Linked DNA regions of Homo sapiens: region 2 is linked to region 1. A link means that fine-mapping ties the variant in region 1 to the plasma level of a protein whose gene starts in the linked region. Region 1 holds a variant in brackets. A gene starts in the other region. All regions are shown on their reverse strands.

What was found. A credible set is the group of variants that fine-mapping cannot tell apart. PIP is the posterior inclusion probability: the model's chance that the variant is causal. Protein levels are from antibody-based Olink assays in UK Biobank. Linkage for the fine-mapping came from a reference panel and not from the study's own genotypes, which makes the PIPs less certain.
Region 2: CCL11 starts here. The variant in region 1 is the best candidate, but not a certain one, in a credible set for the plasma level of the CCL11 protein (UK Biobank, PIP 0.51).

What each region holds. Positions count from the first base shown.
Region 1 is chr3:46,207,654-46,210,153 of GRCh38, reverse strand. CCR1 (C-C motif chemokine receptor 1) reads left to right here and starts at 1,841. Exons shown (of 2, transcript NM_001295.3): 1 at 1,841-1,872. The variant G/A (reference allele first, on the strand shown) is at 993.
Region 2 is chr17:34,284,267-34,286,766 of GRCh38, reverse strand. CCL11 (C-C motif chemokine ligand 11) reads right to left here and starts at 1,025. Exons shown (of 3, transcript NM_002986.3): 1 at 883-1,025. The coding sequence starts at 958.

The DNA.
Region 1 (2,500 bases):
CACATGGGACTCTGAGCCAAAAGCATTGAGAAAATCTAGATCCATGCCCCCCAAATTTAAGCATGCATCAGAATCATGCCAGTCTTTGTCAAAACCTGGATTGCTTGGCCGCATCCCCAGGATTTCTGAGTCAGTATATCTGGCATGTAACCCCAGAACTTGCATGGCTAGCAATGTCCCAGGGAATGTGAATGCTGCTGGTCCAGGGACCTCACTTTGAGAACCACTGCTCTAAAGGACTTCCTCACCCCTTCCCACCCTCGATGCACCCTTCCTTAGCCCAGGGTATTTCCCAGGCCACTACAAAAGCTGTTCCTCATTGTGGTAACTTGGTTAATTGTTTGTGATCCTTCCTAAGCTATAAGCTCTCAAAGAATGGATCCAGCCTCTTTCTTCACCACTATATCCCAAGCACCTAACACAATGTCCGGCACATTGTGAGTACTGAATAAATATTTGTTCAATGAACAAGCAGATTTGCCTGGTACATCCCCTCTGTGGAATGAAACCTAGAGCAGAGCTGGAAGCCTGGTCAAGGATGAGGTACTGACCATGTCCCTTACTTTAGACAGGATCAAGGAAAAGGCAGGCCTCACAAGCCTCTGTTCTCTTTGGAAACTGATCCACCAGCAAAGTACTGCAAATAGCCAGGCACATGCAGACCCCCATTTATTTCTTTGGGGTGAAGCTGAGTGATGATCAGATGTCAAGCTTAGGCCATCTTGTCTGAATTCTTCATTTTACAGATAAGAAAACTGAACCATGAAGAGACAAGTGATCTTTTCAAAGCACATTCACACTGATGATTTCTGAAACAGTGCTTTGTAGCAATGCCGTGAGGAAGGTTAGGGGTGTCCCCACTTTATAGAAGACACAAGGGCAGAGGCAGAGTAGGTGTTGGCAGTTGTGAGGAGAGTCACAGTACTCATCATTTGTCAGACATTTTTCACTGTGCCAGGCACTCTGACATTTTTCATGTACAAGTTGACTTC[G/A]TGCTTCTCCTCTGAGGTAAGCATTCAATACTCCCATTTAGCAGAGTAGGAACCAAGACTTAGAAAGGTGAGTGATCTGCCCATGTCACAGGTGGAGAGCTGGGATTTGAACTTGGCCCATGTTTGACCATCACGTAAAACAGGAATGGGGCATCAGAAAGGGAAGGTCAAAATGTAACCAACAGACCTATATTCCCTTCATGCTGGAGGTTCCTGGGGCAAAGCCACTCTCTGAGGTTTGGTGGGGAGGGACTTGGGGAGCAGAGAGCAGAGGGACAATGAGCTCCCAGAAGCCGAGGGGCATAGGGTGCCAAAGAGAAGCTGCTGCCTCTGTGAGCACCCATGTCAGTTAGTTTTGAGGAACAGGACTCAGGGTTCCAGTTTAAATCCTTCCATTCACAATCTTTAAGAAGAAGAAAAAAAAGAAGTCTGCCGCTGACCACAAGAGCTCTATGCCCTGCCCCCATCCCACATACACACATCCCACACTTCAATTGCTCCAAACATTCTGGGAACATCTCACTGCCACCCACCTCACCCAACTCAGCTTCACCTGCCCCCAATTCCCTTAAGGCTGAGCTCCCAGGGCCAAGACTCAAGAGGCTCAGAGTGAGCAGAGAAAATCCTCGCAGTTAACTTGGCTTCCAGGAAGTGGCCACTGGTGGGCGTTGTGGCCATTCATGAGCACCAAACCACACAAAAAGAAGAACTTTGTCCCTTTCTTGTCATTTTGAAAGACTGTGAAACTGGAGCCAATTCTCCATCATCACACAGGAAGCTGAGTACTTCCTACTTGGTCAGGATCTTGAAACTTGAATTCATAAAAACCCAGAAAGCCCCAGAAACAAAGACTTCACGGACAAAGTCCCTTGGAACCAGAGTAAGTGTCACTTGTCTTTTCTGTCTTATCTGTTACTGTGGAGGGCAGTGTTGTTCAAAGACATGCATGCAGCTAGGGGCTCCTCAAAGGTAGGGGGAATTCTTTGAGTAGGCTGGGCAAATGTCTAAGTAGCCCATGGATGCATCTCCAAGGCAATTAATACTGTAGCAATACTGAGAATGGTGGATTTATAAAGCTGGGTGCTCAGATGAAATATAGGCTTTTTTGCTAAAAAGGAAGCTTACTTGAAGGATTGGCTTTTGGTTACTGATTAAGAAAGTCAGTCAGTACTAAGGGACAAAAGGTGTTTTCTGTGGAAACCTATTCAATAAGAAATTACTTGGCGGGGCGCAGTGGCTCACGGCTGTAATCCCAGCACTTTGGGAGACCGAGGCAGGTGGATCATGAGGTCAAGAGATGGAGACAATCCTGGCCATATGGTGAAACCCTGTCTCTACTAAAAATAAAAATTAGCCGGGCATGGTGGCGCATGCCTGTAGTCCCAGCTACTCAAGAGGCTGAGGCAGGAGAATCACTCGAATCCGGGAGGTGGAGGTTGCAGTGAGCTGAGATTGCACCACTACACTCCAGCCTGGCGACAGAGCAAGAGTCTGTCTGAAAAAAAAAA
Region 2 (2,500 bases), not on the chromosome of region 1:
CTGTTTTGAGACACAAGGTAGACTTGCATTTCTTGGCCACTTTTGTTTGGTTGGAGGCATTAATTAGTTTTGATCAATAAAGAAGGAGACAAAGTGATGGGTGTCATTTTTGAGCCACAGTGCATTGCCTATGCAAGACTCCTGAGAGCTTTCTTCTGCTTTATCACAGTATCCATCAATGTTCCCCCACATGGGCAACTTCTCCATCAGTCTAGAATCCTGAGTATAAAATGCAGAAGCCTGAGCCCATACATTATAGATATTTAGTACAAGTGAGAAAGTAACTTTTGTTAATTTAGTTAATTCTGTTAAGTCATTGATAATTTAGAACTGTTTGTTACCATGCTATGCACTGGCTCAGTGGGACCGATACACTCAGTAAATTTGTCACCAGAGTATGGGAAAATGAGTTATGGAACAAATCTCCTAGATAACTTTCCCAAAGAGTGTCAAAATAAGTCACCTCAAGAGATCCCCCTGGGACCTCGTTCTTCTCTTAGCCACTGTCTCTGAAAGCTGTCCTGGAGTCGAATTAACATACTGAGCTTCTAATCAACAGATTTTCCTTCTCTCCCACTGCCAAAAATGCCCACCATGCCCACAGTAAGACAGAGCCATTCCCCATTCCCAAACACTGTAAGGATAGCTGGGTATGGATGCACCCAGCAACCCTCTTGAATGTGGGGAAAAGACTCGGGAGCTTTCTAGTTCTGGCTCTTCCAGTGACTGGATGTGAGGTTGAGGCATTTCTTGTCCACCCACAAAACCTGTTTCCCTATTTTTCAAATGGAGAATTTGCAGTGAGTCTGTAAAGATTCTTGCTGACCTAGTAGCTCTGGAGGTGGTTACCTTACCTTTCCTGTAAGGAGTTGGGGGGCTTACCTGGCCCAGCGAGCCCCTGGGGGCTGAAGGCAGCTGCTATGAGCAGCAGCCACAGAAGTGCTGCGGAGACCTTCATGTTGGAGGCTGAAGGTGTGAGCTTTGGCGTGAGAGGTGGTGGTTTCTGGGTTGGTCTCAGCCTCTCTGCTCCTCTGGCCCATCTGCCTGCCTTTTATAGGGAGCAGACAGTGTGGGAGATTCCAGGGAAGCCTTTGCCCATGCGGGGGTCACGATGAAGGGATTCCTGATTGCTGACCAGATTCCAGATCCTAGGAAGTCAAGCAGAACAGAAGAGAGGCAAGCTAGTAGGAGGGACTTGGTACATTTTTTAATCCATCTGGATCTTGCCTTGGAAAAGGAGGGGAATATGTGGTTATGAAATGAAGTTAAACATCTGTAGTGGGGGAAGAGAGCAAGAAAACCAAGGCCCTAGGGGATGAGTTGAAATGAAACACCTGTAGTTGGGGAAAGGAGCAAGGAAACCAAAGGCCTGGGGGATGAGTCGATCTAAGAACCTTCCTTGATTCCTGTGTTCACATGGTGGTCTTGAGGATTTTGGAGACCAGGAAGGAGCCCCAAAACTTCCATTAGGCTCCCACCCAGATGCAGAGAGAGCTCAGCAGCCCTGCACATAGTTGCATCTCTGAACCAGGAAGGACAACACACCACAGCTTTGCTGCTGTGTTTCAATGTAATGATCACAGAATCTTAGTCCCTGAAATTTTAGCATGATAGGACATCAGAACTGGATAGTTTCTATTAATCTTGACTTCTGAGGCACTTTAAAACCATTTGCTTAGCTGCTAAAGCCCTTTTCCAAATGGAATTAAAACAAACCCCAACTCATCAAATACACTGTAGTGAAGGGGATTTGTTTGAAATAGAATAGGCAGCCTCTCGTGCCCTTATTCCCCAGGGAACACATTTAGGGAACACATTTGGAAAATCAATCATCTAGTTCCCCCCTCACTCTCTGAGCACACATTGCAGACAAGGTATCTGATGGCTAAAAATATCAAAGAGAGAGGCAACACAAGAACCTATACATATCCCTTTGTTCATAACACTAGGCACCCTAGTTGGAGAGGGTATAAGGGAGGCAAAGTCTTTAATGGAGTCACTGCAGCGGATTACAGCATTGAATACTGGTGTGGAGGTACTGCAAACCTGTTTCCTGTTTTTTCCTGCACACTCTCATATCAAATTGATTGATTGGTACAGTAGCACAAACAAGAATGTTAAAGATTCTGAGGAGTTGACTTGCGTTAGTTAAATACTGTGTTGTGGTTGACTGGTGATGTCTGTCATGGGCACAGGATTAGAGACAGCTCTTGCTGTCCTGCAAAGTCTCTAAGTGCCCATCTAGGATAATTGGTCTATAATTACCTAAAAAGTTAACTATAATTACCAAATAGAGGCCAAAAATGTGGAGTCTTCCCTGTTCTTTCCTGCTCCATTCCTGGTGGGTTAGTCTAATGTAGAACCTGAATTCAGGATATCTGCATTTGGATGATGGCTCTGTGACTGACTAGCTGTGATACCATGGACAACTTACTTAACCACTCTCTGCTAGGGTAAGAGCAGGATACTAATCATGTGTACTTTAGGGAATTGTCGTGTG